4 linked regions of the Homo sapiens genome follow. The protein of the gene in region 1 purifies or fractionates together with the protein of each later gene. This does not show direct contact. Each region holds a gene or a part of one and is shown in the gene's direction. Other genes may lie near its edges.

Evidence for each region.
Region 2: the proteins of FAF2 (region 1) and RRM2 purify together in Homo sapiens (affinity purification with mass spectrometry; 4 studies listed by BioGRID and IntAct, with this or other methods). This does not show direct contact.
Region 3: the proteins of FAF2 (region 1) and KIDINS220 purify together in Homo sapiens (affinity purification with mass spectrometry; 4 studies listed by BioGRID and IntAct, with this or other methods). This does not show direct contact.
Region 4: the proteins of FAF2 (region 1) and DERL2 purify together in Homo sapiens (affinity purification with mass spectrometry; 7 studies listed by BioGRID and IntAct, with this or other methods). This does not show direct contact.

Annotation. Positions count from the first base shown.
Region 1 is NC_000005.10:176,507,385-176,510,574, forward strand, and holds the end of FAF2 (FAS-associated factor 2), read left to right. Parts: 3' UTR 1-2,690; downstream 2,691-3,190. UniProt on the Homo sapiens protein: Plays an important role in endoplasmic reticulum-associated degradation (ERAD) that mediates ubiquitin-dependent degradation of misfolded endoplasmic reticulum proteins.
Region 2 is NC_000002.12:10,117,817-10,125,761, forward strand, and holds the start of RRM2 (ribonucleoside-diphosphate reductase subunit M2), read left to right. Parts: upstream 1-4,982; coding exon 4,983-5,081; intron 5,082-5,166; coding exon 5,167-5,241; intron 5,242-5,570; coding exon 5,571-5,714; intron 5,715-5,919; coding exon 5,920-6,036; intron 6,037-6,900; coding exon 6,901-7,034; intron 7,035-7,945. UniProt on the Homo sapiens protein: Provides the precursors necessary for DNA synthesis. Catalyzes the biosynthesis of deoxyribonucleotides from the corresponding ribonucleotides. Inhibits Wnt signaling.
Region 3 is NC_000002.12:8,729,612-8,736,655, reverse strand, and holds part of KIDINS220 (kinase D-interacting substrate of 220 kDa), read left to right. Parts: intron 1-1,902; coding exon 1,903-2,001; intron 2,002-2,975; coding exon 2,976-3,212; intron 3,213-4,673; coding exon 4,674-5,936; 3' UTR 5,937-7,044. UniProt on the Homo sapiens protein: Promotes a prolonged MAP-kinase signaling by neurotrophins through activation of a Rap1-dependent mechanism. Provides a docking site for the CRKL-C3G complex, resulting in Rap1-dependent sustained ERK activation.
Region 4 is NC_000017.11:5,483,157-5,490,800, reverse strand, and holds the start of DERL2 (derlin-2), read left to right. Parts: upstream 1-4,639; coding exon 4,640-4,732; coding exon of another isoform or gene 4,733-4,938; intron 4,939-5,584; coding exon 5,585-5,650; intron 5,651-7,644. Other genes in the region: protein MIS12 homolog, read right to left, coding at 1,321-1,938.

The DNA of each region.
Region 1 (3,190 bases):
CTGCCTCTGGGGAAGAGAGGGAAGAGAAAGCACAGAGCAGAGAAGCAGAGATGTTCCTTGAACTGCCCACAAGTTTTCAATAACTTTTATTTCTGTTTTGTAATGACCAAAGGAATGAGGCTGACATAGGTATATATATATATTTTTTTCCTTTATTTGATAAAGAGCCAATTCTTTAAACCCATGAGTTTATGCCCTGGGCTCCTTAGCCCACAATAGTGTAATAAAAGTGCCCCGGGCTGGTTTGTGCTTATTTCTGCCATTGTCCCTCTCACGTTCCCAGAGAGGTCATTCTTTTTGGTCCAACTCTTGCTGTCCTTTCTTACCACCTGTGCACCCCACTTGGAGCAGTGGGAGGAAATCTGGGTTTGTGGCCCCACAAAGGCTGTATATGTAAAGATACACCTATGTATGTGGTGGAACTCACCTTTACACACAACTGCAGCTTTTCCTTGGAGTCTGTACCAGGTGGTGGTTATGGGGTCTGAACCAAAGGATAGCAGCTCTTCATTCCTCTTCTGACATGTGCATGCTGCTCCCCCCAGCCCTGGGCTTTCCTGAATTGCCAAGCCTGGTGCCTTTCCAAAGGACTAGCAGGGCCTGTGGTGGAGCCAGCAGAACCACAGGAGAGTGCCCTGCCTGTCTCAGTGGAAGTGTATTATTGTTTTAAGGATAGAACCAGAGGCCTTGAAGGGAGCCAAGACAGAACTCCCAGCCTGTGTAATCTATTGGAAGGCACATTTTCATTTCTGATGCAGCCACCTTCTGGAGGCAGCTTTTATCCTTTCTCTCTATTGCTATGTTGAAGTAATAGGGTTTTTTTTAACCTCTGGATGTCTCGTCTGTGGTTGAGTTTATGGTAATGGGTACATGGGTCAGGCCATGTATTAACAGATGCCAGTGCGCTCTGACAAGTATTCCAAAGTGTTCTGTAGCTAGACTGGTGCAGGCTCGTTGTACCACTGCAACCGACTGACGTTACTGTAGTTCCTAGAATGCTGTGAGGGCGGGGGGTTCAGATCAACATAAAGCCTAACTTGCTGGAGTTGTAGTCTCAAGGCTTTCTCTCTTGCTTAACTAAAACCTAAGGACCACTGTTTTTGGTAGCAATTATATGGTTACTATCCACTGCAGTCCTCAGTTGTTGGGGTAAATCCCACATGGCAGAGTAAGGCACCCCACAGAAATTAACTTGGAGAGCCTGAGAAATTCCCAGTGGCCTTGGCATAGCTGTCTAGAACACCATCTCTAGGAAAATTTAATTCTGTCCCTGGCCAGCTATTGTTCTTCCACTTCGTTTTCTGCTGTCCCAAGGCCAGATGAGTGGAATCACCATCTGACTGCTGTCAATAAAATGTATCTGGCGTGAACAGCAGGATAACCCATGTTCTCCACATAAGGATAACCTTACGTGAAACCTTCCTGCTGACAACCATGCAGAGGAATTTTTCCACTTAAGTCAGAGCCTTCCTCCCCATCTGGAATTCACAGCTGTTCCCTGGCAGCACACAGGAGGGTATTAAGGACCTTTGTGAGGCTAGGTACACTGTCCACACCTCTTTGGGGAAGTTACGATTTTTTTTTTCCATCATAATTCAGTCTCTTCTTATTCTACAGTGTGCACTTTATGCCTCTCGCCTTTTGATAATAGTTGTTCAGTGAAGGAAGTCAGCTGCCAGAATATTAAGAAGGGTCTCCCTTTATGTCAGTACAACTGTTAGGGCGGCCTTCCCATTTACTTTAGGTTTCAAGAGGATTCACCGGAAGCACATGCCCCGGTCTAGTCCCATTTGAAACAGTTCTGCTTTACTGAGACCCTAGGCCGGTCTCCTTGCTGACCCTAGCGCTGCTGCCTAGGTGCCATTTCCTTTCCTCCTCAGTCAAATACAGGCTGCACATTTTGTCACTTAATGCCAGTACAATCTGTGTTACTCCTAAGGACTTTTGGGATTTTGATGAGACCTGCGAGGGAGAAGACACTGAGAAGCCAGTGATCTGCAAGCATTTGCTCTTGTTTCCACATCACCTCTGGGATATTTCAGCTGTTGTTTCCAAATGGCAAATCATCAACTAAAAGCACTTGTTTCAAGTTTTGTTCTGCACTCCCACGACTGAAGTTGTAGATTGAGCTGAATAACCATGGGAAGTGACCAAGCAAAGACACTCGATTGGAGTCAGTTGAATATTTGTACCCTCAGTGGAGCCCTTCTGGTCTTTTCTTCCACTTCTGCAGAATTTCCTCTAGCAAATACTTCTTTCTCCTTGCTTGCCTCCACCATGATATTTGAATAAGAGATGGCCAGAGGATAACACTTGTCTCTTAAAAACTAAGCTAAAAAGAACCTAGAACCTTCAATTGAGCAGTTGTGAAAATTGCTAATGGTGCCAAGGCCAAGCAAAGAGTTTCAGAAAATGACTGAGAAGGAGCGATAACCCCCAGAATGCAAAATCAGGGGCATCATTATCCGGTGCTTGAACAAGGAGCTCCGCTCTACAACTGGTTTTTTTAGGACTTGTGAGGAACACAGCAACGGAAATCCATCCACAAAGGATGCAGTGCCCCAACTTGTACTGCGCCTGAATAGTCATGTGATAATTTACTGAAGAAATCTAGTGTACTTTAAATTTTTTTCATAAAAGTTTACATTGTATTGTAGGTTAACATTAAATGTTTTATAGCAAAAACTTCATAACAGGCTGTGGATCTTTCTGTGTGGGACCGATGTGGTAGATAATTTTCTATGTGTGAAGGAGAGGTTGAAAAACACCGGGAGGGAACAGCATGGCATGGCATTGCCAAGAAGGAAGGGAGAGTCAAAGAGAAGGATGGAGTTAGGTCTTCTCTGTTGTATCCCTGTGGAAAAATAGCAACTTAGTATGATGGAGAGAGAGAGCAGACAGGCCTGGGTTCAAATTTGGGCTCTCTAGTTTGTCAGGTTTGCAACCTCGGGCAAATTCTCTAGCTTCCCTGAACTTGAATTTCCCCAGCTATAAATGAAGATAATGCCGTCCACCTCAGGATAGGTTTATAGATTCAATCAAGTAAATGTATATGAGGCTCCTGATATGTAGATGTCATTAAGTGTTTGTTCCCCTTCTATGGGAGTGTATTTTGTAAGAATATTTTCTTGGAATAACATTTTCTTAAGGAATTTGTCACTTTTGTTGGAACCAACTTGTGTCCTTGCAA
Region 2 (7,945 bases), on another chromosome or scaffold:
CTCAGCCTCCCAAAGTGCTAGGATTACAGGTGTGAGCCACCATGCCGGCCAGTTGTCATTTTAAAGTGCTAATATTTGCAACATGATGGAGATTACATCTCCTGTAACTATTTATGACTAAAAGTTTAAATGTCAGTTTAATTCTTATTTATTTTAGTTTTAGAGACAGGGGTCTTGCTGTGTTGCCCAGGCTGGTTTCAAATACCTGGTCTCAAGCAATTCTCCTTCCTCAGCCTCTGGAGTAGCTGGGAGTATAAGGGTGTGCCACTGTGCCTGGCTAAATGTCTATTTTAAATGTGTGTAAAGTGGCACATAACTGTTCAACATCATTTTAGAGGTTATCTGAGCACGAAGAAAATCATTAATCCCAAAGGCTCTGCACTGTGCTGGCTGCCTCATCCTCACCATCTCCTGAAAATGGCCTCTCAGTGGCTGAAGCTCTCCAATGCGAATGTTCTAGACACAAATGATGTGGTGACACTCACATCAGCATCAAACAGCTCCATCTGGTTGTCCACCCTGCTTCCTGCTTAACCATTTCCTGCTGACTTCTGAGTGAGTGACACATAAACTAACTACAAAGTTGAACTGGGCTGCTCCTGAGACTTGTGGTTGTGGTGCTGCTGTGCTGTGCTACATTAAGAATGTTGGGCTGGGCGCAAGGGCTCATGCCTGTCATCCCAGCACTTTGGGAGGCCGAGGTAGAAGGATAGCTTGAGCCCAGGAGTTTGAGCCCAGCCTGGGCAATATCGTGAGACCTCATCTATATATATATATATATAAATATACGTAATTGGCAGTTCATATTAAAACAAAGTTTTTGAGAGTCTGGAATTCTGGAGTTAGTCAGACCTGGGTTCAAATCCTAGCTATATTATCACGTATGAAGTCTTCTTGCCAATAACTTTTAGCCTTAGGCTAATAACGATCCCCCGCCGGACTTTTTTTTTTTTTTTTGAGACGGAATTTCATTCTTGTTGCCCAGGTTGGAGTGCAATGGTGTGATCTCGGCTCACTGAAACCTCTGCCTCCTGGGTTCAAATGATTCTCCTGCCTCAGCCTCCCAAGTAGCGGGAACCCAAGTAGCGGGAATTACAGGCGCCTGCTGCCACGTCTGGCTAATTTTTGTATTTTTAGTAGAGATGGGGTTTCCCTATATTGACCAGGCTGCTCTCAAACTCCTGACCTCAGGTGATCTGCCTGCCTCACCCTCCCAAAGTGCTGGGATTACAGGCGTGAACCTCCAAGCAGGGCCTAATAAAGCCTTTTGACCTAACTTCCAGTGTAGAGTACAGGGGTCAGGAAAACAAGTTCATTGACACTGTGAATAAACAATTAGGCAAATGTAGAATGTGGGACATTCTACAAGAAAACTGGCCTGTACTTCAAAGTCAATGTCGTGGGGAAAAGAAGTGGAGGAGCTTTACTAAGAGTCTAAAGCAACATAATAAACGCAATGCATGTGATTAATTAGATACTGCACAAAAAAATAAATCCAAAAAACTATGAGACATTTTTGAAACAATTGGAAAAACAGGAATATGGACTGGATATTAGGTTATATTAGAGAATTATTGTTAGTTTTCCTAGGGATAAATGTGGTATTGTGGTGATATTAACAGAGTGTCCTAATTTTTAGGAGCTGAAACGTTTAGGGGTGATGGGTTATGATATCTATCACTCACTTTCAAATGATCCATAAAAAAGCATAAGCCTCATACACCCACAGAGGGGGTGTCTGCCACATTTGCCATGAAGCAAATATGGCAAAATGGAAACAGCTGTTGAATCCTAGCTGGTGGGTGAACACTAGGAATCCTTCCATTATTCTGTATGTTGAAAACATTCATAGTAAAAAGCTAGGCTAAAAACGTTCTGCTGTGCAGTTGTGCTGTGCGACCTTGGGCAGTTTCCTTGCCTCCCAGGCCTTCATTTCATCACCTATGAAAAGGGTTAAAAATACCAACCCCGGTGGGGCGGTGGCTCACGCCTGTAATCTGAGCATTTTGGGAGGCCAAGGCGGGTGGATGGCTTGAGCCCAGGGGTTCAAGACCAGCCCGGGTAACATACCGAGAACCCATCTCTACAAAAAATTAAAAAATTAGCCTGGCGTAGTGGTGCCTGCCTTGAGTCCCAGCTACTCGGGAGGCTGAGGTGGGAGGATCGCTTGAGCTCGGATAGTTGAGGCTGCAGTGAGCTATCATGGAGCCACCAGACTGGGCAACAGAGCAAGACCCTGTCTCAAAACAAAAAACAAAAAACTCAAACAGCCTCACATGATCCAGGCGCCCAGAGGCTGTGGGTGCTGCAGCCTTAATTATTATTATGACCACCTTCGGCACGGCGTCTGGTACACAGTGAGTGCTGAGCTCCCCGAGCCGCGGTTTCTCCACCCTAATGGTGAACAGCCTTTTGGAAGTCGCGCTAACCTTGGCCTGAGACCTGCAAACTTGCCCAGGCTGGGGCGTGTGAACCGGCGAGCGCGCAGCGGAAACGGGGCGGGGCACCTGAGGCTGGGAATGCAGAGGAGCCTTCCGGGGGGCGGGGCGGGGCCTCCCGTGCAGACCAATGGTGGAGTAGATGCAGATGTCAAAACGCGCGCTCAAGTGGCTTCCGCCAGGAATCCCGACGCTTAGGGAGGCGGAGGGAGGATCGCTTGAGACCAGCCTGGGCAAACAAGCGAGACCCTCGTCTGTTTACTTAAATAAAACCAAAAAAACGAGCACCGAGGGAAAAAGGAGTGAATCCCGGGGCTAGCAGCAGCCTGCGGCGGGCGCTCTCCCGGGAGTGGCTGCACCGCCCGACCTCCCCGGAGGCGGAACCGCCCGCATTGCCGCGTGGCCCTGGGCGCCGCCACCTCCTCCGCAGCGGGGCAAAGTTGCCGGACCTGGGGGCAGGAGGGCCACGCCGAGATGACTCAGGTTTAGCGCGGGAGGGGAGGATGGCGACTTCACCCGGCCTTTAACAACACGTACGCATCTTTCGGCGTCTTCTACAATGGCTATGTTAATTACGTGGCCAGGAACTAAACTATCAATGAAGCCACCTCTGACTACTTCAGTTACAGTGAGTTTAACAGGAGCAAAAAAGCACGTGGCGCCCTAGGGCAACCGAAACGAGGGTTTTAGACGCTGATTATGGGAAATTGAAATCTGAGTTGAGTATGAGATGACACCAATAAATTATAATTTTGTTAGATAATAGCTTTATCAGCCATAAAGTAATCAATAAAAATACCAGTTTCCTGGAGATGGATGCTTTAGTGTGTTTGGGGTGAAAATGGCGATGAATGGCGAGTTGCTTTAAACAAATCATGGTACACCAAAGTTTTAGTTGTGGCTTTGTGTAAGGAATGTGATGGGCACTTATTCCTGCAACACGAGAATACTATGATTTACAAGTCCGTAGTACTTTTAAGAAATGAGAGAAACAGACCTAGGTGGGGAGGGTACCTGTCCCACCCCACCCTCTTTAAAGTATCTTATCTAGAAAAGGCTTTGTGAAAAAAAAAGTCCCGGGTCTCTCTCAATAACAGCCCTGAGCGCAGCTGTTGAAGCTTTCTCAGGTTAATGATTTCTTTCTTGGATCTTAAAGTTTCTTTCTCTTCCTTTATTTTTGGCATTTTGCCCGTTGCAGGGCCTGGCAAATCAGAAAGCCACATAGAAAATTAAATGAAAGCTATTGCTAAGTTCCAGTCTCTACACCAGTGGAGTTTTCAAACTCCTCTTCAGCATATTTGACGCCCAATGAGTAGTACATTAATTCCTAGTCCTAAAATCATTCTGTGAACTTTCTCCCAGGAATTTTTGCTCAGTTTGCAATTAAAACAACTTTTTTTCTTCTCTTTTTAATGGCAGAGGCGGGGTCTCACTATGTTGCCCAGGATGGTCTCCAGCTCCTGGCCTCAAACAATCCTCCTGCCTTGGCCTCCCAAAGTGCTGGGATTACAGGCGTGAGCCACCGCGCCCAGCCACAGTTTGCAATTCTTAAGGCAAGGGTGACAATAGGGGTCAGGGGTCTGACAGGAGACAGGATTTCTGTGGAAAACTGCACCAAGGGCCTTCTCGCCATGTCCCGTAGTTTGAAGGTTTACAAAGGACTGCACATTTTACATGAGTCATCTCAACGAACGCTCTCCTCACCGCATTAACAGTCCACGCGGTTACGAGTCCCATTTTACTCACGGGGACACCGAATCTGTAAGAAGCCTGGTCGCTTGTCCCAGCAAAACGAGCCACGGGGCTCAGCGGCCCTAACTTTTAGGCTGTAGGGTCCTCGCCGACCACCCCGCCAAAATGTCAGGCCTCGGGGCCCTTGCACCCCCACCGCAGGGACACGGATCGAAAGGGTCGCAGCAACGCCTCCCCCGCACCCAGGAGCGTTTTCCAGGCCTTTGCACCAACCTCGTTGGCTAAGCCCCCTGCCCGGCGGCGGCCCGGCTGGGAGGAGGTGCTTTCGGGAGGCGGGGCCGCGGCCCGGGGATCCTCTCGCGCCCGCGGGCTCCAATCGCTGCTCCTCACGCAATCCTAAACGGTTCCCGGGCGAACCGGGGCCCGCGCGCGCCAAGGCCGCCGAGACCCTCAGGGGCTGCGGCCCTGGTCCCGCGGGACCTGTGGGGGCCTGGGCGGCGGCGCCCCCGACCCAGCCAGCGGACGGGCCGGGGGGGGAACCGGGAGGTCCCGGGGGGCGTCCACGGGGGTGTCCCCGGGGGTCTCCGGAAGGCGCCGGCGGAGGCTCCCGCGCTGCGCTTGAAAATCGCGCGCGGCCCCGCGGCCAGCCTGGGTAGGGGCAAGGCGCAGCCAATGGGAAGGGTCGGAGGCATGGCACAGCCAATGGGAAGGGCCGGGGCACCAAAGCCAATGGGAAGGGCCGGGAGCGCGCGGCGCGGGAGATTTAAAGGCTGCTGGAGTGAGGGGTCGCCCGTGCACCCTGTCCCAGCCGTCCTGTCCTGGCTGCTCGCTCTGCTTCGCTGCGCCTCCACTATGCTCTCCCTCCGTGTCCCGCTCGCGCCCATCACGGACCCGCAGCAGCTGCAGCTCTCGCCGCTGAAGGGGCTCAGCTTGGTCGACAAGGAGAACACGGTGAGCCCGCGGGGAGGGCGCTGCGGGCAGGGGAGGGAGGCAGGGAAAGCGAAGCCGCTCCTCACTCACACGCGTCTCCCCGCAGCCGCCGGCCCTGAGCGGGACCCGCGTCCTGGCCAGCAAGACCGCGAGGAGGATCTTCCAGGAGCCCACGGAGCCGGTGAGTGGCGGGCGTGGGGCAGAGGGGCCAGGGACGGCCTTGGGCGTCTTGGCGCCAAAGCCGCATTGTTTCCTCAGCTGTTCACACTCCCGCCCCGGCTCCTTTCCCGCCTAGGCGGCCCCTCCCCAGGGCTGCCTCCCGCGCCCCTCGGCCCATTTCCCGGTTCGGGCGTGCGCTCCTCTGCTGCGACCCACGGAGTGCGACGGGACAGCCACGTTTTCACATCGGGCCCCGTGAAATTGCCGCCAATGGAAAGGACTTGGTCCAGAAAAACGTTAGTTTCATATGGTTCGCCCGGTACTTAAATGTTTTATTTTCTCCCCCAACAGAAAACTAAAGCAGCTGCCCCCGGCGTGGAGGATGAGCCGCTGCTGAGAGAAAACCCCCGCCGCTTTGTCATCTTCCCCATCGAGTACCATGATATCTGGCAGATGTATAAGAAGGCAGAGGCTTCCTTTTGGACCGCCGAGGAGGTAATCGGAGGACCCCAGAAGACCCCTGCAGGGGTGACCGTCACGCCTCAGACATAAATGCACTTGGAGGTTCCCGTTGGCAAGGGGGGCTAACTGTGGGGCATAGTAAGTGGTGCCAGCATACTTAAAGTTTGAGTGCTCAGTGTGAGTCCTGTAGGCTTTACTCTCTTCCTTTTATGCTAAAATTGTGACTTCCGAACCTCAGGTGGACCTCTCCAAGGACATTCAGCACTGGGAATCCCTGAAACCCGAGGAGAGATATTTTATATCCCATGTTCTGGCTTTCTTTGCAGCAAGCGATGGCATAGTAAATGAAAACTTGGTGAGTTTCCAAAACATCTTTCATTCATTTGACGTTGACGATCTGAGGTCGAACTAGTTCGCTTTCCTCGTCTTGTATGTTTTTCCATGCTGAGTGCATCTGTGTGTGTAAGCTGGGTTTTATATTACATGGCATTTCCTGTTTTGTAACACTTTGCAGTTCTTTCTTATGGTATTTTCCCGACTCTAGAGAAGCTGAGACAATATTAAGTGGTAGCAATGTGATGACTCTTTGTGGCCACCACATCTGCCCCCTCTTTTTTTTTTTTTTTTTGAGACAGAGTCTCACTCTGGCCCAGGCTGGAGTGCAGTGGTGTGATCTTGGCTCACTGCAACCTCCGCCTCCTGGGTTCAAGCGATTCCCCAACCTCAGCCTCATGAGTACCTGGGATTACAGACGTGCGCCACCATGCCTAGCTAATATCTGTATTTTTAGTAGAGACAGGGTTTTACCATGTTGGCCAGGCTGGTCTCGAACTGCTGACCTCAGGTGATCCACCCACCTTGGCCTCCCAAAGTGTTGGGATTACAGGCGTGAGCCACCACGCCCGGCTCTGCTCCCTCCTTTTTGTGGCTTTGCTGTTTTAATAATAATTTGGTTGTATCTCTTATTGCGAATGGATCTTTCTTGACATAAATTAATTAGGAAATCGAGCGCTCACAAATCCTATTTTATATGTATCTATTTCCTGATATGTAAGTTGAGCATATGACATAAAATATCAAAGAATTGTGACAAATTGGATGAAATATATATAGAAATAAACCTTATAATGGTACAAAGAGTGCGATGCTGCCAGTATCCGTTGACAGTTGCTGCTGTTGGTTTTTTCTCAAGCTTAACTTTGATGTGTTTTGCCACTAGGTGGAGCGATTTAGCCAAGAAGTTCAGATTACAGAAGCCCGCTGTTTCTATGGCTTCCAAATTGCCATGGAAAACATACATTCTGAAATGTATAGTCTTCTTATTGACACTTACATAAAAGATCCCAAAGAAAGGTGAGTATTCAAGTGGTATGCCAAGATTTTTAGGACTCACTAATTGTTGATTTATTACACATTTTTAGTTCACCTAGGGATAAAAATGACTCCAGAATGACTAAGACAGTCATAGGCATTCCCAGCACCCGTGGTCATGTCTGCTCTTAGCAAGGGGCCTAAATGCACTTTATTATTCACTTAGAGTTGTGAAGGTACTCCTTTTAAAGTTGGATGTCTACCAATGTAAAACCTTCTTTTGAAAAAATTCCTAGATGTTGGGTAAGACAAACTAAAACCTATGTCTGACCATCTTTGCTCATTTGGTAAAGTTGTTGAGAAGCTAGAATGTGGGGCTGCAGTGGGATGGACGGGGAGGACTTGCCTCCTAAGAAGCCTGCAGTATAGTATAGGCAAATAAGACTTAGTAGGAGTTACATAAGGCAGAGGCAGCAGTGAACCCTGAGACTGATTTAGGCATGCAGGAGTTTGGCTGAATAAAGGTAGCTTAAGGTCTGTTTTGTTTTGGAGATTGGAGGTGGGGGGATTAGAAATGGGCTGCTGGAGTAGTCTAGATACAAAGGTCAGCTTTAGGGTGGCGCGCGGTGGTTCTCGCCTGTAATCCCAGCACTTTGGGAGGCTGAAGCGGGCGGACAATGAGGTCAGGAGATCGAGACCATCCTGGCTAACACGGTGAAACCCCGTCTCTACTAAAAATAAAAAAAGTGGTGGCGGGCGCCTGTAGTCCCAGCTGCTTGGGAGGCTGAGACAGGAGAATGGCGTGAACCCGGGAGGCGGAGCTTGCGCTCCAGCCTGGGTGACAGAGCAAGACTCCGTCTCAAAAAGCAAAACCAAGCAAAAAAAACAAAGGTCAGCTTTGGGGACCAGAACCTTGTATGGAGTGGAAGTGGTGAAGCTGCAACCTAAAGTAG
Region 3 (7,044 bases), on another chromosome or scaffold:
GCTGTCTTACCATGTTCTTTTTTAAATGACGTAATACAAGTAAAGAATGCCTTGATGAGAAAGAGAAAGCTCTGAGGGATTCCCATTGGGATAAACAGAACTCATCTTTCCAGTGTGGAACCGAAAACCTTTGTGTTACATTTTTTTCTAATTGTAATATTTGTTAGTGTGATTTAGTGATTATCAAAGTAAGCCACACTTGCCTCATTTTCTCCAAATTCTCATTTTCATGTCATGTAGGACTTAGGATCATGTCACATTTGATGAAACCACATAGGTTTGGGTTTGCAAGGTTAATGCATTTGCATAGTTTTTTTTTCTTCTAAGATCCTATTGCAATTCTAGCAGCTATCAGGAAGTTGGCTAGAGATGCCTGAGATTTGGGGGAAGGTTTTAACGAAGTCTTTATAGTAGGTATTTCACTAAGGTATACTTTTTATATCAGAGTACTGTGTAATAAAGTAGAACGTTAATAACCAGCCTCTAATATTTATATACTTGAAAGAATGACATCTGAGAGAAGTTTTTTAAAGAATTATGAGCATATGTAGACACCATTTTACTCATCTCAGCCAATTTTAGAAAGGTTTCAGATAATGTCAGTTTCCTTACAGAGCTGGCTCGTGCTAGTCCCTGTTTGCATGAGTCAAACACCGGCTTTTCCATGGATAAGCCCCACTTTCTCCTTCAGGCAGCTGGTTGGTGTCAGGAAAGAGCGGGGTCTCCCACACGAGTCCTTTGTGATGATTTTGTTCCCATCGGGGTAGTGGTTTTCTCCCCACTCAGCTCTTTGCTCCTAGACCCCGGCTTTCTGAAGCCCCTCAGAGCCGCTGGCCTCCTCCGTGCTTAGGGCTCCGCGGCATTGTTGCAGCAGGACCTCTGTCACAGACTTGCTGTGTATACTGTTTTCTTCAGGATTAACTTGGAAACTGAACATTCTATTGATTATAAACATAGCTATTTCATAAATTTGCCCCAGTTAATAAAGTCAGGTTTTACATTTTATAAAAGCAGTAAGCTACCTATTATTAATAAAGAAAATGCTGTTGTTTCATTTAGGGGAAACTAGAATTACAGGGAACCAAAAGTAATAACTTCCTTTTTTATGATTTTTTTTTTCTTTGAGATGGAGTCCTGCTATGTCACCCAGGCTGGAGTGCAGTGGCGTGGCCATGGCTCACTGCAACCTCCCGCCTCCTGGGTGCAAGCGATCCTCCTGCCTCAGCCTCCCAAGTAGCTGGGACTACAGGCATGTGCCACCACTCCCAGCTAATTTTTGTAGTTTTAATAGAGATGGAATTTCACCATGTTGGCCAGGCTGGTCTCGAACTCCTGACTTTAGGTGATCCACCCACCTCAGCCTCCCAAAGTTCTGGGATTACATGCGTGAGCCACCGCGCCGGGCCTTGTGAATTTAATAGACTGGAAAATTAGTGGGTGGGCATTCTTCATATCTGTATCTAATATAACGGATAAACAAGTTTGCCAGGCCTACTTCATTTAGAACGTTGTTAGTGACCAACACGCTTATGAGAACAGATGTCTTTGTCCCCTCCCAGCAGCTTGTGTTCATGTTCATATTTTCTAAGATTAGAAAACAAAAACTAACAGTTTTGTTGTTGCTCATGACAGCATAGGTAGTTTTGGAAATAGGAGGGTTAGTTCTTCGGTTGGTCCCAGAAAATGCCTAAGACATTTGGGAAAATATGAAGTGGCTGATGTTGTTCAAATTCAGCTTGTTTATTGTATTATTATATGGGATGATAACCTTTTTTTTGGTCAGCCTTTCTGGTCTCTAGAGACTTATTTAAAACTAAATATAAGCATACTTGGCAATCACTAGTAATTCAGAATATTTCACATTCTGTCTTTATACCCATAATTGTTTTAATTTTTACTCAGGCAAACATAAATGGCCGTGTGTTAGCTCAGTGTAACATTGATGAGCTGAAGAAAGAGATGAATATGAATTTTGGAGACTGGCACCTTTTCAGAAGCACAGTAAGATATTTGTAACATTGTGATGTTTACAACATTATTTTATGATAACATTCAAAATTATTTATAACATTGTAGAAAACCAGTATCAATAAGTACTGGCCTAAACTGGTATTTTTTTCATATTTTTTTAAATTTAAAAACTGCTTCTTACACTTATGTGCAATCCTGTGTTGTGGAAAATACACACAGCAGCACTTGGCAGCCTTTGCCTTTTTGGGCATTTCACTCAGAGATTTGGGGAAGAGGCCGCCTGCCGGTTCTTCATGCTTTCACCTGCCTTAACTCTCATCAGGCTCCTCAAAGCCTTCGAGGCCTTGACCTTCAGCATTCATCCTTATAGGGCTTGCATTGCCCAGGTTTAGCAAGAATCCTGTTAAGTCAGTTTACATGTGTGATCACCCTCAGTATTTGATCAAACGCCTCACTAACCCCCCCACCCCCAGGTGATGTCGGCTCACCCTGGCCATCGGCGTACCAAGAGTCCCCCACTCCTGCTGCCTCCCCTTAGTAATGTTCCATCCACGACCCCCACCCTGCCCCTTGGTGGTAGATCCCCACTCATTCGTGCTTATTCCGAGTTGGACTCCCTTCTGTAGTGAGACTGCTTACCCCTGTTGCCATAGTTCTGAATAAAATCTGGACCTACCGCCCTACTCCTGGCCAGCTCTGGTTTTGACACAAGCCAGCTGCATTTTTCTTTGTCCTCAAGTTAAGTTTTAAACAGAAGTAATAATTTAATGGACAAATTGCAGTGTAGTATATGTATGGTGGTTTCTACCATTGCTTCCTTTAGTATTAATGAACATGAAAGATAAGCTGATGTATAAAACAAATTCACTAGAAATTCACTTACCAGAAGTATGCTTTCTCATTGCTGTTGCAATAGCTTTATAATGTTTGGTATTTCTAAATATTTCTAAAGCTTCTAAAATATGATTTGTTAGTGTAAATATTTATGTTTTTCTTCTGTTAAGGTACTAGAAATGAGAAACGCAGAAAGCCACGTGGTCCCTGAAGACCCACGTTTCCTCAGTGAGAGCAGCAGTGGCCCAGCCCCGCACGGTGAGCCTGCTCGCCGCGCTTCCCACAACGAGCTGCCTCACACCGAGCTCTCCAGCCAGACGCCCTACACACTCAACTTCAGCTTCGAAGAGCTGAACACGCTTGGCCTGGATGAAGGTGCCCCTCGTCACAGTAATCTAAGTTGGCAGGTATTTATTGAATGGCATTTTTCATATTATTGAAGAATAAGCACACCGTTCAGTTCACTGAGATTATATGGGCATTTAGACAGTCATTCAGAAAATGCTTACTGAATACCTAAGTGAACAGGAGACAAGATGGAGGGCTCCCTGTACTCAAGGAGCTGCATCCATGTGGAGAGGGGCAGTCAGTGAAACAAACAAAAAAGTAGCTCATGTAGACATTGATGAGAGCTGAGATATCCATCAGGGTCACAGCATGCAGAGTCAATAGGGATTAGGCCACTTGAGCTAGGGTGGTCAGCAAATTCAGCCTTTCTCAGGCGATCTTCCTGTTGCATTCAGTAACTGTTGGTTGAAGTACATCTTCATTGGAACACTGGCCACATAGTGTCCCTTTGAGCACCATCCTTTGGTTTTCCAGGACGCCTGCACACCCTTCACGGATATTGGTTTCTTCTGGTCTGGCATTAGATGTAGGCGCGTTCTTCCTTTGGAGATTCTTAGAAGAAGGAGGCCAGGTGAGGGGTAGGGGTAGGGGCAGGGACAGAGCAAAGTGAGAGATGCAGGAGGAGTAGCGGGAGTGAGGAGAGCGCAGGAGGAAAAGCAGAGCAGGGTGTGGAGAACAACGGGGGAGGAGGCACAGCGGGCGGCAGCGAGTAACACTGAGTGGGCAGGGCAGGGCAGCGGTGAGGAGGAGCAGCGCCTTGGGGAAGGAAGAAAATGTCCTATTTCCTTGAGAAGGTCCCCAACAAATTCACTTTGCTCCTTCTTTTTTGTTTTAGCCTTTGCTCTTGACCCTTCTTAAACTTTCTTGATTCTTCTCCTTCTTTTTCCTCATCTGTACTTTTTGCTCCTTGTTTCTTAGCTATTCTGGGATCTGAAGCAAATTCTAATTCTAAAACTTAATATTGGAAATAAACTTGTAAAACTACTTTATTTTTCTGTTTACTAAGGCCCAACTATTGGCCTCATTGCATTTTATATTTTATCAATGAAGTTGACTTTGGCCTTAAATAAAAGCTAAACGTTTGAAGTTATAAAAACAAGTGCTGTGGCCGAGCATGTGGGACATGCCCATAGTCCCAGCTGCTCAGGAGGCTGAGGCGGGAGGATTGCTTGAGTCCAGTAGTTTGAATCTAGCCTGGGCAACACAGCAAGATCCTGTCTCTTAAAAATGAAATAAAAACCAGAAACAAGTGCTAAGATTATTTGTTAATACAGTGTTTAATCATACTTTTAAATATTAACAATAAACTGATTTTATTAAAATTTATAGAAAGCTTTCTAGTAACAGCATTATAAGGTCACAGCTTTTGTTAATCTGTGTTATGTAGAATTCTTTTAAAAGAATTTGATGTTTTGATGACTTTTTAAATGGTTAGTGTACATATATATTTCCTAAGCTGATGTTTATGCCTTTTTTCTTCTTATTTGAATTTTTAAATTATTTTTTTTCTGTCTTCACAGTCACAAACTCGCAGAACCCCAAGTCTTTCGAGTCTCAATTCCCAGGATTCCAGTATTGAAATTTCAAAGCTTACTGATAAGGTGCAGGCCGAGTATAGAGATGCCTATAGAGAATACATTGCTCAGATGTCCCAGTTAGAAGGGGGCCCCGGGTCTACAACCATTAGTGGCAGATCTTCTCCACATAGCACATATTACATGGGTCAGAGTTCATCAGGGGGCTCTATTCATTCAAACCTAGAGCAAGAAAAGGGGAAGGATAGTGAACCAAAGCCCGATGATGGGAGGAAGTCCTTTCTAATGAAGAGGGGAGATGTTATCGATTATTCATCATCAGGGGTTTCCACCAACGATGCTTCCCCCCTGGATCCTATCACTGAAGAAGATGAAAAATCAGATCAGTCAGGCAGTAAGCTTCTCCCAGGCAAGAAATCTTCCGAAAGGTCAAGCCTCTTCCAGACAGATTTGAAGCTTAAGGGAAGTGGGCTGCGCTATCAAAAACTCCCAAGTGACGAGGATGAATCTGGCACAGAAGAATCAGATAACACTCCACTGCTCAAAGATGACAAAGACAGAAAAGCCGAAGGGAAAGTAGAGAGAGTGCCGAAGTCTCCAGAACACAGTGCTGAGCCGATCAGAACCTTCATTAAAGCCAAAGAGTATTTATCGGATGCGCTCCTTGACAAAAAGGATTCATCGGATTCAGGAGTGAGATCCAGTGAAAGTTCTCCCAATCACTCTCTGCACAATGAAGTGGCGGATGACTCCCAGCTTGAAAAGGCAAATCTCATAGAGCTGGAAGATGACAGTCACAGCGGAAAGCGGGGAATCCCACATAGCCTGAGTGGCCTGCAAGATCCAATTATAGCTCGGATGTCCATTTGTTCAGAAGACAAGAAAAGCCCTTCCGAATGCAGCTTGATAGCCAGCAGCCCTGAAGAAAACTGGCCTGCATGCCAGAAAGCCTACAACCTGAACCGAACTCCCAGCACCGTGACTCTGAACAACAATAGTGCTCCAGCCAACAGAGCCAATCAAAATTTCGATGAGATGGAGGGAATTAGGGAGACTTCTCAAGTCATTTTGAGGCCTAGTTCCAGTCCCAACCCAACCACTATTCAGAATGAGAATCTAAAAAGCATGACACATAAGCGAAGCCAACGTTCAAGTTACACAAGGCTCTCCAAAGATCCTCCGGAGCTCCATGCAGCAGCCTCTTCTGAGAGCACAGGCTTTGGAGAAGAAAGAGAAAGCATTCTTTGAGAAAAACAAGCAAAGGAGAAGAGTGTTACTGTACCTTTATGACAGAATTGTCCTGGATTTTGACTCCATCCACGCCCATCACCTTTCTACATTTTGCTGACAGATAACTAACCGATGATGAGGCCGAGGTAAAAGAGACATCTGCAGTGTGACAGAAGGGAGCATGAGAAGCATGGCTCACCAGCCAGCCTCTGTGGTCTTTGTAATTAGAAGCTTCAGAACTCACTAATACTACTGTACCTTTCATTGGCGCATTACCCCATAAAACTTTTTGAGACGAGGTGAGATCTGAGTATAAAGATAGGTCAGAAGTATTTTAAAGGGCTTAATGTGCCAAAAAGAAAAAAAGCTAGAGACCCTTTTTGCAAACATTTGGTGACCACACATTTGAGGGAAGACGTGGCGTTAGGTGAAGCAGAAGCAAACCCTGCTCTTAGGGGCTCACCTAGGTGAGTGCACAGCCTGTGACGCTACAGGGAGAGGCTGAGTAAACCGAGATCCAGCGTTCTGTATGGCAGGGGTATTGCTTATCACAGAGGTTCTGAAGAGTAGGAAGTACATAATGAAGAGGGCTTTAAAAATTGCCAACAAAGTGAGTCACCAGGGCTGGCAGTAGTGTGACGGGGCTGTCCTGAGCTGTTAGGAGAGTAGATGCGGGGAGGGCTGGTGACCTCCGTGGGTTTATATGTCGGAAACTCTTCTCTCCAAATCCCAGGCCTGGCTTCCAGCACCATCCAGCTGTGCCCAAGAAGCCACCCTGGTCTGTTCTCCAACTCTTTTAAATGGTGCCCAACTTTTCTAAGTGAGCTTAGCAATGAGAAGAAAAAAAAACATGAATTCTTTTTCTGGAAAATCAGGGAGACATGGGTAATAATAGGTACTAATAAATATTTATAGATGAGTGAATGAGGAAATAATTACATCAAAAAGGTCAGTGACAATTGATAAATGACAAGGAAATATTTAATTAGGTAAAACTAAATCATTGCTCTCTATACTAGGATAGACTTTATCTACTTCATCTGTTCCTAAGTCAGCATGTTAGTTCTGGGGAAGGATCATAAGAAAGGAAATACTTTTTAAAAAAAAATTTGGAAACATGTAACAA
Region 4 (7,644 bases), on another chromosome or scaffold:
TATATTTAATGTACAGAATTGGAAAAAGGACTTCTTGATAATAAACATATTTCATGTAAACACAAGCTTTCAATATCTATGAATATTTCATTGCAAATACACCCTAAGTTACTTCTTCTCTACATAAAGGAGAAACTCCAAGTTCTGCTCTTTAGGAAGACATGGAGGGCAAGCAATACCTTAGGAACAACCATTGCTATTTCTCCCCTTTCCTTGGGTGACCTAACATTTTACAGGGACTAACGACATAAAGAAATATTAGATTCCATTGAGTTTAAACACAAATTTCCCACTGAGGGCATTAAATATTTGATGCTTATGAGTGTGAATAAATAAATATTAGGTATAAGGCAGATTCCAAAACCAACTGAAGTATGAAAACAAATTGGCATAGATACCTAACAGTCAGTAAAATTAAATTTCACTACTGAGTATATGCTACATGCTTCCTTTTCTACTCCAGTGGGTTCTGCTTTTTTTGTCTAAGGTCTTCTGCTGGACTCTAAGACAGTCAATTGCTTAACATCACCAGGTTTTTTGTCAGGGGATTTATTTTGGAAATAAACCAACTTCTTTTTTATTAAAGATCAAGGTTGTCTTTTTTGCTACATGCTTCTTTCCACTACATATTGACTCCCTCATGAAAGAAAATTCACAGGACGAGAGCAAGTACTCTATGTTGGCTGTTCCGCAGTGTAATGACTGGTTAATAAAAGAGCCACTCAGCCTGGACAATATAGTGAGGCCTCGTTTCTGCAAAAAAATTAGCCAAGCATGGTGACACGCACCTGTGGTCCTAGCTACTTGGGAGGCTGAGGCAGGAGGATCACTTGAGCCCAGGACACAGAGGTTGCAGTGAGCCAAGATTGTGCCACTGAAATCTACTCTAACCTGGGTGACAGAAAGGGACCTTGTCTCAAAAACAATAATAATAATATTAAAGGAGCCACCCGTTTAATCCTTTTCTTGTCTGGTCTCATCCAAAGAGTAAGCCAAAATAATCAAGGTCACAAAGGACTTATGACCAAGGTGTAACTCTGCAAATATCTTTAACTGGTCATGGCTTCTTTGTTGGATCCCTTCCCACTTATTAGAAGACTCAGATGCTTCAGCCTAGTTCAAAGTAGTACACTTCATACCTCAGCAAAGTGGACCAAAAAAGAGGAAAACACAGAATACAAGAAAGAGTTGACAAAGCAAATCTAATAAAAAGTATGGTTGGTTTGAACAGTCACTGGTATGATTTGAACAGTCCTTATGGTTTGAACAGTCCTTATGATTCTACTTTTTGACAGGCTCCTCCTTTTGACTACTGAGCAATTAAGATATTTTCAGTCGTTTCGATTCCTTTTCCACATTGTCTCTAATGTTCTGTAGTTTTCTGGAGTTCTGAACCAGGGATACTAAACTCTCCCTAAAATCACTAGTCCCATGATCTCTGCCAACATTATGAAGCTCATCAAAGAAAGTCAACGTCTGTTTGAGTTTGGCCTGAACAATTTTTTGCTCTTCTAATTCTGCAAGAAGGGCCTGCTTAGTACATAATTCAGTCTTGTACTTCTCCTGTAACTGTTCAATTTCTTTCTGGAGATGCTGAAAATCTTCCTCACTATAAGGTGTCTCCTTACATTTATCTTCAGGAAGCAAGATGTTTGAGGGAATACGTAAAATCAGCTGCAAAAACAGTTGCTCCATTTTGCTAAAAAGGTTATCAAAATGTCCTTTCATGAAGCAAAGAAACTTCTCTGTGCATTTGCGAATCTGCACTGGGCTAATGTCACAGTCTGGGATGCCATCCAGCTTCTTCAGAATAACCTGTTCAACGGCCTGCATCACTTCAAATAGGTAGTCTTGAAATGCAATGTAGATCCGAAGCATGCACGTTTGTGGCGTGAAGCCAAAGAACTGGGCCTCGTAGGTCATTGGATCCACAGACATCTTGGCTTATTTTGCTATGTTGTTTTCAGTCGTGAAAAACCTGCAAATGTAAAAAGGAAATAATTCATTTGGAAAAAAAAAATCTTCTGCAGGAAGTAACCAATCACATTACAGATAGCAAACAAAGAAGCAAATCAATAAAAAATAAGGAGTTTGTGTTCCTTTATACCTGATGCCACTCCCACAACAGGATATAAACTCTTTGCCTCTCTGAGGCTCCTTCCATCAGCCTATACCCTCCCTTTTCCCCTCCTCGTTGTTCACTTCCCTTACCTGTGACTTTGGCACAGATCAGTCTTCTGAATTATCATCCTAGACAACTTTGAAGTCTAGACAGATGACTTAACCAATGCCCTAGAGACTCAGTTTCTTGAGCTTCAATGACCTATAGCTCCACCTTTTAGCCACCTGGCTCTTGATATTTGTAACTACTCTTCCAAACTGCTTCTACTTTTTGACTACTGCCTCCTACACAATTCTTCCAATTCTTACCCATATACTCATATTATACCCTAATCTTCAAGATTTACAGCCCCTCCACCCTCTCTTTCTGTTCTCAGCCTCTGCCACTTCTCTTCTTTCCTTATTCATTTTAGGCCTCATGATCTATCATTTTGATCACTCCGTTGCCAATGTCCTCAATTTGCTTGTCCTCCAGCCAAGCCATCTGAAAAAAACCCAATTAGAAGATGAGTAAGTCCCTTGTCAGCTTTATAACCCTGACATGTTTTTTCAAGGGTCTGCGAGTAATTCCTCTCAAATATAAACATCTAGGAAAATAAAACCCCTATCTCCTTGTCATTGTGGGAATTCAACCTAGGCATCTTTTTCTGAGATGAAATGATATTGCTTGTCATAGAAATAAGAGAAATTTTATTATTCCTTCAGATAAAGGCAATTAGCTAAAACAAACTGCTACTTCAATTATCAGGTGAATTTAGGACGCACTTTATGAAATAATTTGCAATAAGCAGTACAGTCAAATCTTATGGGAAGATAAGATGCAGCCAATCTTAAGAATTTATGTTTGTAGGCTGAGCACGATAGCTCATGCCTGTAATCTCAGCACTTTAGGAGGCCGGATGGACGAATCACCTGAGGTCAGGAGTTCGAGACCAGCCTGGCCAACATGGCGAAACCCTATCTCTCCTAGAAATACAAAAATTACCCAGGCGTGATGGTGGATACTTGCAATCCCAGCTACTCGGGAGGCTGAGGCAGGAGAATCACTGGAACCCGAGAGGCGAAGGTTGCGGTGAGCCGAGATTGTGCCACTGCACCCCAGCCTGGGCAACAGAGCGAGACTCTGTCTCAAAAAATAAAATAAAATAAAAATTTACGTTTGTAATGGTTAAATATGGAGTGGTTATAACTGTTTGGCTGTATATGTAAGGTAGGATTTCTTTCTGTTTTTCTTTTTTTCTTTTGAGACATGTTGTCGCTCTGTCGCCCAGGCTGGAATGCAGTGGCACGATCACAGATCACTGCAGCCTCAACCTCCCGCGCCCAAGCAATCCTCCCACCTCAGTCTCCCAAGTAGCCGGGACAACAGGTGCAGGCCACCATGCCTGGCTAATTTTCTTGTTGTTGTTGTTGTTTGAGACAAAGTGTCACTCTTTCGCCCAGGCTGGAGTACAGTGGTATGATCTCGGCTCGCTACAACCTCTGCCTCCTAAGTTCAAGTGATCCTCTTAGCTCAGCCTCCCAAGTAGCTGGGATTACAGGTGGGCGCCATCTCAAACAACAACAAAAAAATACACTTCCTTGATTAACTCCTTTCTTCGAATTCCCATTAGGACCTCTCTTCGGGCACTGACTGATGAACTTCTACCGCCTCATCTTCTCTGCTAGACTTAGAGTTCCTGAGAGCAGAATAAATGCGGCTTGATCAGTATTTGCCGATTCAACGCAGAGGTGCCCAGGTCATCTCGGCGAGTTGAGCTGTCTAAGACCCCGCGATCGCGCAGGACAGGACCCAGAAGCCAGAGCGCAGGAACTGCTTCCGGCCGGCTCCCGGCTTCCGTCGGGCCCCGCGCCCGCGCTGCATGCTGGGATCTTCAGGTCGGAGGCCGGGGTGAGGCCGACCCACAGGCCGCCTTGCTCCCTCGCGAAGACGCTTATGCCAGTCTCGCCCGTCCCCGCTCCTCCTCAGAGAAAATGCTGCCCCGCAGCACTTACCGGAGCGACCATGAGGGTGACGATTTGAAGCACACACAGGCTTCCCGCCACCTCCTTTAAACCGCCGCTGGCTTGCCAGGGACAGACGGCGCGGTTGGCTCCCCAAAATTCCGACTGATACGCGCCTCGGCGAGCGAAAGCAAACGCGGGATACTCTCGCGTTCCTGATTGGCTGGTTGTGGACACCTCAATTATGACAGAAAGGGGCCGGGCGGGAAAGTTAGCTGTGGCCGGCGGGGATTGGCAGAAGGAACCTGTACTTACTCGTTTTTCCCGGACGTTGGCTGGTGGAGAAGAGAGGGTGGGGAGATGGGGCGCTGGGGGGGGGCGGTGGCGACGCAACTCGTGATTGGCGGATGTGCGTTCCTTAGGTCTCTACGGATTGCGGTTGCTTGGCGTTGATTGGGCAGTCGCGGGAAAACTAAAGTGGGCGGGGGGCCTTTGGGCCCGCCCCGCCGCCGGGGCCTGCTGGCGGAAGGGGAAATGGGGTGGGTGGGGGGTGGGGCAGGCGACGGTGGGGAAGATGGCGTACCAGAGCTTGCGGCTGGAGTACCTGCAGATCCCACCGGTCAGCCGCGCCTACACCACTGCCTGCGTCCTCACCACCGCCGCCGTGGTGAGCAGCTGCAGTGCCACCTTCTCATTATCTGGGCTGGATATGACTGGGTCTTCAGGAAACTGGGGTTTGGGCCTCGGGGAGGCCCAGAGGGGCTGGTCCCGGGGATGGGTGGAGGCGTACAGGGATTACTCTGGGGTTCGAGTTGGCGCCAAGAATGCTTATCCAGTGACGCGAGAAGGGAGTGCTGCTTCATGGGGGGTCAGGTCAGTTTCTAAGAGATGAGCGCCGGACCTATAGCGGGTTAGGGTTGCGGGAGCCTCCCACCCAAGAAATGTGTCCGAGAGCTCTGCCAATGGCCAGGTGGTACCATGGTGACTAGTGAGAGGAAGGTCCGTTTAGTGAAGAAACAGGAATGGGGAAAGCAAGCTGGAAACTGTCGAGAGGGGAATGGCTTATAATAAAAAGGGTCTCTGGATCTAAATAAGGGGCTAGCTGGAGGTACCCAGCCCTAACGGTGGCAGGGTCTCCAGTCTCCGTTATTTCAAGTGAGTTTTGTTGTTTCATACAGCTGTTTCAGGTGGTGCCCATGTGGTGGGTAGATTCATAGCAGCTGTTTTTATTTGTCCTGTGTCTAAAATATCACCACCTGTCTGCCTCATTTCTTCATGTCAGCCTCAACTATTGCAACATAAAACAGACTTTTTTGTGTTAGGTATTGAGGATACAAAGAATTCTACCAATCCTAGAGAATTCTTTACCAACCTCTTCCTCTGGCCTAAGAAGAAAGGCTTAAAGGAAATCACGTCTAAGTGACCGAGAGTTGGAAATTGCTAGACCTACTAATTCTTTGTTGTAAATGATGAAATTTTGTTTCTTGATTTGCTTTAAGAAGCTCTTTTTCTATTTCAGCAGTTGGAATTGATCACACCTTTTCAGTTGTACTTCAATCCTGAATTAATCTTTAAACACTTTCAAGTAAGTGGTTCATCACAATAGTGATTAATGCTTCAGTTTCTTCTTTTTCTTACTGTTTAGTAGCAAATCCTGTTATACACTATCCTAAAAAAGAACCCAGTGGGGACCTTTGATTATAAGTTGCCTTGTCAGGATATAAAGCAGTGATTCTGCAGCCTGGTTGGACTTGAGAATCCCTTAGGGAACTTTGAAGAGATTCTCAAGCTCCTCAACAAGTACCAAATCAGAATTTGCAAGGGTAGGAATTAAAATCTGTGTTTTATTTTTAAAGTTCCCTGCATCGTTTTGATGTGTCCAGTTCCTGTATTTGGAAATCACTGGTTTAGACTTAACGTTGTCCTATGAGAGGAGGCTGACTAGCTAGCTGCTTAGGGGTTGTCTCACAGGGATGGCCTTATTTTGTCCATTCAGCACCTAGGCACACCCACCACCTTGGTGTTATCACCATGGTCCAGAAACTCAATTCTGTTAGTGCTTTTAAATTGTGATCTGTCTTCCAGGGATCAGATCATACTAACCAAATTCCAAACATCTAAAGCTATATGGTGGTTTATTAGATTACAATGGGAGATGGTCCTTTCCAGTGATTAAAATGCCAAAAGAGGCTGGGCACAGTGGCTCACGCCTGTAATCCCAGCACTTTGGGAGGCTGAGGCAGGCAGATCACCTGAGGTCAGGAGTTCAAGACCAGCCTGGCCAACATGGTAAAGCCCTGTCTCTTACTAAAAATACAAAAATTAGCCAGGCGTGATGGCACATGCCTGTAATCCTAGCTACTGGCGAGGCTGAGGCAGGAGAATCACTTGAACCCGGGAGGCGGAGGTTGCAGTGAGCCGAGATTGTGCCATTGCACTCCAGCCTGGGAGACAAGAGCGAAACCCTGTCTCAAAATAAAATGCTAAAAGAGAGATGGATTTTTCTGTTCCAGGATGATCTTACCATAGTTGGAGTAGGGGAGAGACCCAAAAGCCAATAACTGTGCCTCTACACATGCTGTTCTGTCTGTCTCAAATGTGTTTCATTCACTTTATATCCATTGAACTCTAGCTTGCCTTTCAAAACGCAGCTTTTGTGTAACCTTTATGTACTCATCCTCCTTTGTTTTAGAACATCTCTCACTTTTACTTTGCAGTTATGCGTATGCTTGTCTCCTCACTAGGATGAGGACTCTAAAATCTGGATAATTAATATGTAGAACTGAATTGTTTCAACTTTAATAGTTAACAATTCTCAAGAATTTAGTGGTCTGTAAAGCAGTCCTGTCATCTCTTGTCACTGTGTTCGCACAATACTCACATGGCGCTGTAGTTCCATCCAAGTAAGTCTTGCTTCCTACTTGGCTTTACTCTGCCTGGGGTTAAACTCTTGATGACACTGTGCATTTGGAGTTAGGAGTTCTAGATTTGCCATCAGAGTTTCCATCTACTCCTGCGGGTCCTTGGTCAGGACATTTAAAAGTTCAACTTTTAGCTGAATAACTAGTATTCAGCTAGTCAGTCAACTTTTAGTCTCCTATCTGTGAATTGGGGGTAGCTTGCTTGTCTGTGGATCACAAGAGATAGTAGACATTTTAAAACGTTAAGCACTCTACAATTGAGAGTGGTTACTGTGGGTGTGGAGATGTTGGGTAGGGAAGGGTCTATCAGGGTTTCCAACAAGAAAATAAGTGTTTGGCAGGGTGCAGTGGCTCACGCCTGTAATCCCAGCACTTTGGGAGGCTGAGGTGGATGATCCCCTGAGGCCAGGAGTTTGAGTCAGCCTGGACAACATAGTGAGAACCTATCTCTTTTTTTTTTTTTTTAAGTTTTAGTTTAAAAAAAAAGAATTTTCCTTTCTTTTAGATGTTTCTGACTGCCTAATGTAAACATTTCTCAGCAATTTATATTAGACCCTGAAGTTTTTCTCTGATATGTCAGTTCTATTTATTATATGATGATACTACATATGAAAGCACTGTTTTCTGTTCTGCCGATTAACCTAGTCTTTCCAGCAAA